2 linked regions of the Homo sapiens genome follow. The protein of the gene in region 1 interacts with the protein of each later gene in a biochemical or structural test. Each region holds a gene or a part of one and is shown on either strand. Other genes may lie near its edges.

Region 1 (4,896 bases):
CTGCTGAATGGAGTATCAGAAAAAGGGGTATTTAGGAACCCAAGGGTTATCTCTGTTCCATTCTGCTGCTGCTACCTTCCCACCAATCCAGATTGTTAGAATAAGAAACAGAACTTATATTTTTTGGTTTGTTTTGTCATGTAATTCTGGTGCTGGTGCCTCTTCTTTCTAAACTCCTCTTTCCCCACCCTGCCATCCTCAAGTGAAGGCAATGAGAACCCACCTAGAGAAGGGGCTACTAAGTGTCCATCACTGGCCTGTGCCCTGATTAACTACAAAGATGATCACCACTATTCTCATTCTGTTTTTTCCTCTCAGGAAAAACTGAAGCCTCAGTACTTGGAAGAGCTACCTGGACAACTGAAACAATTCTCCATGTTTCTGGGGAAATTCTCATGGTTTGCCGGGGAAAAGGTAGGAAGAAGGGAAAAGAAGAGGATACTTCTCTATCTCTGCAGGCTACTACTCCTCAGACCTAAGCATCTTATTGCTTTTCTTCTAGCTCACCTTTGTGGATTTTCTCACCTATGATATCTTGGATCAGAACCGTATATTTGACCCCAAGTGCCTGGATGAGTTCCCAAACCTGAAGGCTTTCATGTGCCGTTTTGAGGTGACGTTTCCTGCACCTTTCTCTTATAAAAACACTCACAGGCTCCCCTGGGACCTGCAGGATCCCATAGTGGAGGATTCTTCCCCGGCTTTTGCCTAATGGGATCAATGGTTGGACACCTCTAGACCTTTAAGTCTTGGGAAGAGCCTAACTTCTATACCTTGGAGGCACTGTCTACAAAAAAATGGAGGAGGTAGACGCAGGCAACACGTGAATGTTGCTGTTCTGGTATGCATCTGTTGGACTGGGTTGGGGTCGTTATAAGATTTGGTGTATTTTCCTTTCAGGCTTTGGAGAAAATCGCTGCCTACTTACAGTCTGATCAGTTCTGCAAGATGCCCATCAACAACAAGATGGCCCAGTGGGGCAACAAGCCTGTATGCTGAGCAGGAGGCAGACTTGCAGAGCTTGTTTTGTTTCATCCTGTCCGTAAGGGGTCAGCGCTCTTGCTTTGCTCTTTTCAATGAATAGCACTTATGTTACTGGTGTCCAGCTGAGTTTCTCTTGGGTATAAAGGCTAAAAGGGAAAAAGGATATGTGGAGAATCATCAAGATATGAATTGAATCGCTGCGATACTGGCATTTCCCTACTCCCCAACTGAGTTCAAGGGCTGTAGGTTCATGCCCAAGCCCTGAGAGTGGGTACTAGAAAAAACGAGATTGCACAGTTGGAGAGAGCAGGTGTGTTAAATGGGACTGGAGTCCCTGTGAAGACTGGGTGAGGATAACACAAGTAAAACTGTGGTACTGATGGACTTAACCGGAGTTCGGAAACCGTCCTGTGTACACATGGGAGTTTAGTGTGATAAAGGCAGTATTTCAGACTGGTGGGCTAGCCAATAGAGTTGGGACAATTGCTTACTCATTAAAAATAATAGAGCCCCACTTGACACTATTCACTAAAATTAATCTGGAATTTAAGGCCCAACATTAAACACAAAGCTGTTGAAATATTGATGAAAATGTAAGAATTTTTGTGACCACGGGGTAGGAGAAGTTTCTTTAAAGACGTAAAAAGAAAAAAACCATAGGCTGCTCTGCCTGTGGAGTAGCCATTCTTTATTCTTTTACTTTTTAAAATAATAACAATCACAAAGGAAAGATTTGCCAATTGAATAGGATCAAATTCTACAACTTTTCCTAAGGCACCCACAAATAAATGACAAGTGAGACAAAAAGCACTAGTATAAAGATTATATAAAGACCTATAAATCATTAAGACAACTGAGTTTTTAAAAATGGACAAAATCCATGAACAATTTATAAAATAGAAATATAGCCAAAAATGTCTAAAAGATGTTTATGATGTAAGGAATTATCAATTACAACAGTGAGAAACCATATTTCCTTCTATCCGATGAGTAAAAAGTTTCTAAAGTGTTGGCAAGGCTTAGGAAAGTGATATGCATTTCCTGCTGGTCAAGTTGTAAATTAGTATAGCTACTTTGGAGGACAATTGTAAAATTTAAATCATATCCTATGACCCAGCAATTCCATGCTATAAAAACTCATCCATGGCCGGGCTTGGTGGCTCACGCCTGTAATCCCAGCACTTTGGGAGGCTGAGGTGGGCAGATCACGAGGTCAAGAGATCGAGACCATCCTGGCCAACATGATGAAACCCCGTTTCTACTAAAAATACAAAAATTAGCTGGGCATGGTGGCATGTGCCTATAGTCCCAGCTACTCAGGAGGCTGAGGCAGGAGAATTGCTTGAACCTGGGAGGCAGAGGTTGCAGTGAGCCGAGATCACGCCACTGCACTCCAGCCTGGCTACAGGGCGAGACTCTGTCTCAAAAAAAAAAAAAAAAAAAAAAAAAAAACATTCAAAGAGACATATACTAAGATGTTCACTGTGGCATTGTCTGTAATGACAAATAAGTGGAAACCGTGTAAATACCTGTCAATACTATGGAGTACCATGTGGCAACGGAAGAATGAGACTGAACTGTGTGAACTAACATGCAAAGATCCCCAAAACAGGCCAGGTGTGGTTGCTCACAGCTGTAATAACAACACCTTCAGAGGCTGAGGTGAGAGGATCAGTTGAGGCCAGGAGTTTAAGACCAGCCTGGGCAACATAGTGAGACCCCTGTCTCCCAAAAATTTTTTTTAATTAGCTGTGCGCAATTGCTCATGCATAGTCCCAGCTACCCAGGAGGCTGAGGTGGGAGGATCACTTGAGCCCAGGAATTTGAAGCTGCAGTGAGCTGTGTTCTTGCCACTGCACTCCAATCTGGGTGACTGAGCAAGACCCTGTCTCTTAAAAAAATAAAAAAGATCTCCAAGCATAGAGAAGAGTCTGGAGGGAAACACCAAACTCATAACAGTCTTACTGCAGGCAAGTGGGATAAAGGCCCAGACTCCATGGTGGAAGTTAAAGGGCATTTCCAAGTTAAGGCTAAGACTTGCTTTTCTAACTAAGAGAATGTGCTCATGCATTGCTTGTGTAGTAGAAACTAGTTTTTAGAAAAGAAAGCAAACTTAAGAAACACTGACTCCTGTGGAGATGACTTGGCACCACTCTCCTTTCACAGAGCAGAGTCTGAATAGTCTTCAGAGATAGGCCTGTGGGCCAGATTGCCATCCCCTATGGACCAGAAGCCAAGGATCTCTCTAGTGATGGTCAGAGGGCCCAAATGGCAGGGATACCCAGTGATGTCAGGAGGAATAGTACAGACAGAAGGTGCTAAGCAGACAATTCAACTGCCATGTTTTGCCACCCCCTGTGAGCAGGGATTAGGTGTTCAGGCCAGTATCTTGGGCATGGGGGAGCCTTTGGCCAGAAGAGGTATAAAGCTCAGAAGTTTTTCAGTCTGATAACTATTGATATAATTTCCATAGTGTGAGGGAGCGGTATGCTCTACCCTTGTGTATTTAAGGCAGGACAGAGAAATTGAGGATGCCCCTGGGGCTAGATCGATGATATGACCAGAAATCAAAAAGGGAATGCATTATTTATTGCTGTGTAACACTGTTAAGAGAGGAGGTAGTTAAGGGATGGATAGGCACATAGAGAGGGAAGGTCTCAGGAGAAGGGATAGAAAGGAACTATGTTCACAAGAACAACGGCAAGACAGTGCCTATACTGCCTCTACAGTTAATAGGAAAAACGGAAGAAGTTACCCTTAAGCTAGGATGTTGCTCAGAAGTGACCATCCCAACTTTGGTGCGGGCACAATAAATCAGCCTAAATGTCCCTAATTTAACCCAGCTCATTATAATGTCATTAAACATGACATTAGCATTGTGGTTTTAGCACCCCCATGGGTTTTGCTTAGGCACTCATGGGTAATAACCAAGATGGAGTCCCTTTGGCAAAACTTAGGCATGCACAGCTGTAGTACCCCAAGAAGAAAATGTTACTTCTCTCATCTGGGCAAAACCCACAGAAGACTTCCCAGCTTCTGCCACATAAAAGACACAGAACACAGACGCCTTACTGGCAACCTGCTTTCAAGACCCCTGTCTTTGCTGAGAGCTTTCCTTTTTCCCAATAAATTCTACTCTGCCCTACTCACTCTCCATGTCCATGTGCCTAATTTTTCGTGGTCATGGGACAATAGCCTGAACCTTGCCATACTCCAGGGGCAAAAGAAGACTTCTACACTATTCCCACAAATTTAGCAGCTAAAACAATACATGTTTATGGTCTCAAAGTTTTGTGGATTAGGAGTCTGGGCACAGCTGAACTGGGTCCTCTGCTCAGGGTTTCATCTGAAAACTGCCATCAGTGTGTCATCCAGAGCTCTGATCTCATCCCCAGGCTCAGTGGGAGAAGGATCTGCCTCCAAGTCTGTGTAATTGTTGATAGCGTCAGTTCTTTGTTCCCTGTGGGACAGAGGCCCTCCATTTCTCATTGGCTGTCGGCTAGAGCCACCTTCAGTTCCTTGCAAAAGGGATCTCCTCAACACGGCCACCCATTTCACCAAAGCTAGTAAAGGAGTCTGCTGGAAGAAGGAACACTACAGTCCTATGTAATCTGATCACAGCAGTGACATCCCATCACCTGTTCTTATTCTATTAGAAGCAAGTCACCGGCCCCACCCACACTCAAGGGCATGAGTACCAGGAGGTAGGATCATGGGGGCCATCTTAGAGTCTGTTCACCACAAGAGAAGAAGGAAGGAAACAGGAGATTGGTCCTGCAGTCCTATGAGAAAAAAATCCTGGGAAAGACAGATGACAGGAGAAAGCAGCAAGGTAGGGAATGAGCAATTTGCAAGGGAGAAGTTTAAAAAGCCCAGGTCTGCAGGTGAAATGTATTTCACATGAATTCCAGA
Region 2 (7,294 bases), on another chromosome or scaffold:
TTTTTCTCTTAACAGGTTCTTCATTTTGAAAATGTCAAAGATGTACCCTTTGGATTTCAAACAGTAACATCGGATGTAAACAAACTTAGTTCCTTTTACTCACTGAAACTAATCAAGCGGCTCTACGTAGACAAATCTCTGAATCTTTCTACAGTAAGTTGTTTAAAGCAAGTAGCAAGACTTAACTTTTTACAAGGAGTGGCATTTTCATGCTGTTAGACCTACAACTTTTTTTCAGTGAAATTCCTTTCTAGGATGTTCACTTGTGATTTGAGGCTTTAAATAAATAAATCCTAGTGGAGAGGTTGAGTATAGTGGGAATCAATTGCAGTCACATCTTCTAACTCAAAATACAGAGAAGCTTATGGGCTTTCCTTTTCTCTCTCAAATAAATCTTACCCTTTCTTTTACCTTCCTCTGAGAGAATGGAGAACAGAGTAATTAACTCTCTAATAAATGTAGCTCCATAGACAATGAGCTGTCTTACAGAGTGTAAGACAGCTAATGATTTAAACTTCTTTCTCCTTAAAGAGCAGGGCATATGGCCTGGGACAATGTTTTAAGCTCTCCACCTCATTTTTTATGCACACATTCTTCTGATGTTTCTCAAAATCAGTAAGAAAAATAATAACTATGAATTCACAATTTTCATCAGTCACAAATTAGTTTTGTTGGCTGGGCTGGTCAGATGGGGATCTCCACAGGCAGCTCTGGTTATATAAGTTTAGCCATTGCTCTAAGGAATCATACAAACACCACTACGGTACCCATTGTTGTAATATTTAAAAATCTGTATTTGAAACACACAGACAATATTCTAGACTACATGAAGTTTCCCTCTGTACTTCAGTAACACAGAGTTGATTTAGTTCCTGTTTGGATGGTCAGAATTTCAAGGTTTCCAAATCGAAAAGCTAGACTACCAGCTTTTAAATATTTTACCATGATTTTGCAACTTTCTGCAGTAGGTATTTTTGTGGTTAAGATCTTTTGAGGACATGGGTTACTAGATATTGTGAGTATATTTTTTGTTGCTTAAAGATACATACACACAACCATTTTTCTTCCAACAATCATCTGAAGAATTTAAAAAAAAAAACTGAGATGTGAGTTGAAGCCTGAGCATACAACATTTCTAGAAGCTCCCTAAATGATCATTAAAGAGACAATTAACACATTTTTATTGCTGGCAGTGAGGACAATGGAGGCCCTCCTTCATCTGGCTGAGGCTTTCTAATGTTTTCAGGTGAGATTGGTTCTGTCAGTCAATGGTGACAGTGAGTCCCAAGGTTGATTTGCAATTAACTGAAGCTAAGTTAATTGGCTAAGGCTGAAGCTGCTCTGAAGAAATTCAAGAAGCCCTGTGCTTGGAAGTGAACTGACATGACACTGAATCAAGTTATATTTAGTTTCACTGAACTTCCATGCAACATCTGGAATGATCTTAACCAGACTAGGAGTTGTAAAGTTTTGTTTTGTTTTTTTCCTTGGAGATGGAGTCTTTCTCTGTTGCCCAGGCTGGGGTGCAGCGGCATGATCTCGGCTCATTACAAAAGATTTTTTAAAAGACTGCTTTCCATTGCTCCTGCTAGGTGCACAGCATCTGCAAATTTACTAGTTAAAGGTCCAAACAAGTGTGCTCTGTGGAGGATCTCTTGCATAAGAACTATCTGGGTGTTAAAAGGGCAAGTTCTTCAGGCCCTTTTAACACCCAGGTAGTTCTGATTGAACCCAGGTAGTTCTGATTAAACCCAGGTAGTTCTGATTGTCAAGGTGGGAATGGGGTTTAGGGTTGCACATTTTAAATAAGCATTAGAATAAGAACTCCTGTTATGTTCTCTCCTGCATTGTGTTTCCAACCTTAATTTGCAGATGGCACACCTGGAAATTTTGTTAAAATGCATTCTGATTCAGTATGTCTGGGGTGGGGTCTGAGATTCTTTATTTCTAACAAGGTCTCAGGTGATGCTGTACACCACCTTGGACCACAGTTTGAGTAGCAAGGGTCTACAGGATATTTAGTTCAGCAAAGACAAGAGTTTTCTGCTCATAATTCTGTTTTCTATACATTTCCTATATTCTAATATATATGTATCTGTAGACATACAAAATTTTCATGTTTCTGAAATTACAACCCATAAGAGAATTGGGCATATTTAACATAGTGTTTTCCCCAAAGCTGATATTAAATTGATAGATGCATTTAATAATTGAAATTGTCTTATAATTGAAAAAAATGAAACATTCAATACAAAGAAATTCACTGACTTCTACATGAGGTTTCAATTCATATAGTGTTACCAATTTTGAAAGTGTACATATAGCAGTTGATATTTAATAATCCTTTTGTTAGAAGAGAATAACAATGCAATAGCTTGACTACAGACTCTGATTTTATGAACTGCATGTTTTTCAGGAGTTCATCAGCTCTACGAAGAGACCGTATGCAAAGGAATTGGAAACTGTTGACTTCAAAGATAAATTGGAAGAAACGAAAGGTCAGATCAACAACTCAATTAAGGATCTCACAGATGGCAAGTACCCTTTAATTGTTCTGCTATCAATCACCAAGTAAACAGGGCCTTCCATCTCATAAATGTTTGCTCCAAGGATAAAAAAAACATCTGGAGGATTCTCTGGATATTTTTACTACACAAGCTAAATTCTTTCCCTTCAAGCCTGTAAACAACTTGGATTTCTGGGCAATTCTTGTATCATCTCATCACTTGGTAGAAACTGTTGATGCTTCAGTGTTAGTTTACTTTGTCTTGCTCTCTGACGAGCTGTCACAGGCCCTAGTGGAATCCTAGCTGCGCCTCTAACAAAGTATGACTTTGGGCCAATCATGAGGCCATTTTTCAGTCTGGAAATAGAGGGACTGGATTATAACTTCATGATCCCCGAGGCCCCTTTCAGCTGACAAATTTTACAAATTTGTTAAGGAAAAAGGGACATAGGCAACATATGTAAAAGAAAAACCGGCTGGACGCGGTGGCTCACGCCTGTAATCCCAGCACTTTGGGAGGCCAAGGCGGGCGGATCACGAGGTCAGGAGATCGAGACCATCCTGGCTAACACGGTGAAACCCTGTCTCTACTAAAAATACAAAAAATTAGCCGGGCGTGGTGGCGGGCGCCTGTAGTCCCAGCTACTCGGGAGGCTGAGACAGGAGAATGGCGTGAACCCGGGAGGCGGAGCTTGCAGTGAGCAGAGATCGCGCCACTGCACTCCAGCCTGGGCGACAGAGTGAGACTCTGTCTTAAAAAAAGAAAACCAAACCAAACAAAACCGTAGTGTCAGCTTGTCCTCGGTGCCGCAGCTCCCCATGCTGGTCGTTCCTCTGATAGCCCCGGGGTCCAAGAAGCTCCTAGGTTCTTTCTCCGGCTCAGTGCTTCCCCCAGGCGTCTCCCTCGTCGGACTCCTCGTCCCTCCCTTAAAATTGCCGGTGAGTCGTCTTCCTTGCTGGAAAAGAATTAGGGTTATGATGATTTTGAGGGCAAATCAGTGACTTTGTCCCCCTCCCCAGTGGATATATTTATAATTGCATCTGGAGGGACCCGTTGGGAGGCCGGGCCGAATCTAGTCATGAAAGAATGAAGCCTAGGCAGTCGCTGCTGTCTAGGGAGGGATACACTTCCGGGGCAAGGGAGACCCACTTCCTGCGAGAATGACTGGCGCCCCCAGCTACTCTGTCTCTGTACTGACTGAGGAAGTTCTAACAGGACAGTAACTGCAGGATGAGAACATGGGAAGAACAGGGTCTCTGGAGTCATTCAGCACCTAGGTTCAAATCCAGACACTGGTACTTACTAACTGATATTTGGACACAAAGCTTCAATTTACTGAACTGTAAAATGAGGCACATGTTACCTGATTTAATTTTTAAAATTGTATTATATTGTGTTTTATTTCAATAGGTTTTGGGGAACAGGTGGTTTTTGGTTACATGGATAAGCTCTTTAGTGGTTACTTCTGAGATTTTGGTGTACCCATCACCCAAGCAGTGTACACTGTGTGCAATGTGTAGTCTTCTATCTCTCACCTCCTTCCACTCTTCCCCCACCCCACAAAGTCCATTATGTCATTATTATGCCTTTGCATCCTCATAGCTTAGCTCCCACTTATAAGTGAGAACATACAATGTTTGGTTTTCCATTCCTAAGTTACTTCACTTAGAATAATGGTCTTCAGACCAGGCATGGTGGCTCATGCCATAATCCCAGCACTTTGGGAGGCCAAGGCAGCTGGATCACCTGAGGTCAGGAGCTCAGGACCAGTCTGGCCAACATGGTGAAACCCCGTCTCTACTAAAAATACAAAAATCAGCTGGGCATGGTGTCACGCACCTGTAGTCCCAGCTACTTGGGAGGCTGAGGCAGGATAATCGCTTGAACCTGGGAGGCGGAGGTTGCAATGAGCTGAGATCGCGCCATTGCACTCCAGCCTGGGTGAGAAGAGAGAAACTGCGTCTCCCAAAAAAAAAAAAAAAAAAAAAAAAGAATAATGGTCTTCAGCTCCATCTAGGTTGCTGTGAATGCCATTCTTTCTTTCATTTTTTTTTTGAGATAGAATGTTGCTCTGTCGCCCAGGCTGGAGTGCAGCGGCACGATCTTGGCTTACTGTAACCTCCGCCTCCCAGGTTCAAGGGATTCTCCTGTCTCAGCCTCCCAAGTAGCTGGGGCTACAGGTGCGTGCCACTACGCCCAGCTAATCTTTGTATTTTTAGTAGAGATGGGGTTTCACCATGTTGGCCAGGCTGGTCTCAAACTCCTGACCTCAGGTGATCCACCCGCCTCAGCCTCCCAAAGTGCTGGGATTACAGGTGTCAGCCACCGCATCCAGCCATGAAAAGACTTCTGAGTTTGAAATGGGAGGCTCAGGGTTGAAGTTGAAGCTCTGTCGTTTACCGGCTCCCACACTTCTTTGTTCTTCAGGTTTCTTCAATAACACTAATATATATTTAACATATTATATAGCATTGGCAGGACCAGTTACATAATTTGCATGGTCCAGGGCAAAAGTAAAAATGCTGGGCTTCTTGTTTAAACATTTATTAAGAATTTTGAGGTAGTGACAGCTGAACATTAAACCAAGTGCAGGGTCCTTCACACAGGGGTCACAGGCCTGTGAAGTGGGCCCTGAACATTGGTCTGAAAATTGGAGATTAGGTGAATGAAAACCCTTTATAAAAAACCTGTGGGCTATTCAAATGTGAGGAGTTCTTTTTATTAAGGGATCACTCCCCTTGAATTGTTTTGGCTATTGGGATTTAGCTTTATAATAACTGCAATTGTGATTGAGCCCTATGGTGATTACAGTTGACCTTGAGGCAATCAGCCTGCCCGCAAGGAGTGCAATTGAGAGAGTGGATGGAGAGCTGTGGGGTGAAGGGGACAACCTTCAGACATGTTTTCCAGCTGAGGAAACTAGAACAGCTCCTTGGCCTCTCTGAGCCTCAGTTTACTGCACTGTAAAATGGAGATAATGATCTTTGCCTTATAGGACCATTGTGAAAAGACTGAGATAATATATGTGAAATTCTGCCATAAAGAAAGTGATTACGTATTTTCATTCAAGAGCACAGGCTTTGGAGTCAGAAAGAGCTGGCTTTGAATCCTGAATCCACCCTTGTTTATATATCATCCTTGAAAGTGACTTATCATCGCTGAGTCTCAGCTTCCTCATTCATAAAGTAGGAAGAAATATATATAATGTGTATCAAATAGCTTGTATACTGCCTGACACAGAATAGGCATTCAGAATGGTAGCTGTGCTTTCCTTCTTATTTCTCTTCCTTTCTTCCCTGCTCCTTCATTCTCCTCTGCTGACCTCTTTGGTAGATCTGGTTGTGTCAAGGTAGAAGGAGAGAAAGGAGTCCTTCTGAAATTTGATGGTTGGAACCATCAGGCCTTACATGGTGTGACTCCATGAAGTGGTAAATACTCAGTGAATATGCATGTGAATTTCAGATGTAGTTTGGAAGAATAATTCTGCTACTTGTGTTTTCCTAAAATTGTTGCAGGCCACTTTGAGAACATTTTAGCTGACAACAGTGTGAACGACCAGACCAAAATCCTTGTGGTTAATGCTGCCTACTTTGTTGGCAAGTGGATGAAGAAATTTTCTGAATCAGAAACAAAAGAATGTCCTTTCAGAGTCAACAAGGTATGTGGGGCAGCATGTAGCAGTAAAAGGAGCCCAATTATAGATGTGAAAAATGATAGGGACAGAGTGGGGCATAAATCCATTCCAATGAGGAACCTGAGGGCACGGCCGGCAAAGTGCCTTTCCTGAGATGAACAGCTGGAAGGTAAGTGGTACAAAAAGAGCCAGAATCCAGAGGCCCCCCCTCCTCTTTTCCATAATGTCTTCAAGGATCTGAGCTGAGTGAAACTTTATAGAATTTGTAACCCAGCGAGGAAAGCTAAGTCACCAGCTGAAAAATAGCTACAAACATCTGAGAACTTTAGCAGAAAAGGAAAAGACCAAACTCTGTTATCAGAGGACTTTGGATTATCATGAAACCTTGACATCTAGGAATCTTGTTCCTGATTGATTAACTTCTCTAACATCTCATTTCCTTATCGGTTGATAGCGAAGTATATTGTTCTGGGATTTTAATTTATAATTTATAAGATGCTTTGATGGCTGGGCGTGGTGGCTCATGCCTGTAATCCCATGACTTTGGGAAGCCGAGGAGGGCAGATCACCTGAGGTCAGGAGTTGGAGACCAGCCTGGCCAACATGGTGAAACCCTGTCTCTACTAAAAATACAAAAATTAGCTGGGCATGGTTGTGGGTGCCTGTAATCTCAGCTACATGGGAGGCTGAGGCAGGAGAATCAGACCCTGGGAGACAGAGGTTGCAGTCAGCCGAGACTGCACCACTGCACTCCAGCTTGGGCAACAAGAGTGAAACTCCACCTCAAGAAAAACAAACAAACAAACAAACAACAAGACCAGATGCTTTCAGGCACTTGTTGGCTGTGAAAAAACAAAGTATGGCTTACTCATTGACATCACTGGAAGTCATTATGGGAAGAATTAAGGGCCTGTTTTGCAGGCCAGTCTCATTGATACTGTTGAAGTAAATATGTTAAATAATTAATAGAGGGTGGGCACAGTGGCTCATGCCTGTAATCCCAGCACCTTGGGAAGTCGAGGCAGGCAGATCACGAGGTCAGGAGTTTGAGACCAGCCTGACCAACATAGTAAAACCCCATCTCTACTAAAAATACAAAAATTAGCTGGGCATGGTGGCATGTGCCTGTAATCCCAGCTGCTCAGGAGGCTGA

The links.
Region 2: the proteins of GSTM3 (region 1) and SERPINB5 form a complex in vitro, tested with the Homo sapiens proteins (one study listed by BioGRID).

Annotation. Positions count from the first base shown.
Region 1 is NC_000001.11:109,733,174-109,738,069, reverse strand, and holds the end of GSTM3 (glutathione S-transferase Mu 3), read left to right. Parts: intron 1-318; coding exon 319-414; intron 415-502; coding exon 503-613; intron 614-900; coding exon 901-999; 3' UTR 1,000-4,133; downstream 4,134-4,896. UniProt on the Homo sapiens protein: Conjugation of reduced glutathione to a wide number of exogenous and endogenous hydrophobic electrophiles. May govern uptake and detoxification of both endogenous compounds and xenobiotics at the testis and brain blood barriers.
Region 2 is NC_000018.10:63,486,931-63,494,224, forward strand, and holds part of SERPINB5 (serpin B5), read left to right. Parts: intron 1-15; coding exon 16-153; intron 154-2,416; coding exon 2,417-2,534; intron 2,535-3,683; exon of another isoform or gene 3,684-3,802; intron 3,803-6,022; coding exon 6,023-6,165; intron 6,166-7,294. UniProt on the Homo sapiens protein: Tumor suppressor. It blocks the growth, invasion, and metastatic properties of mammary tumors.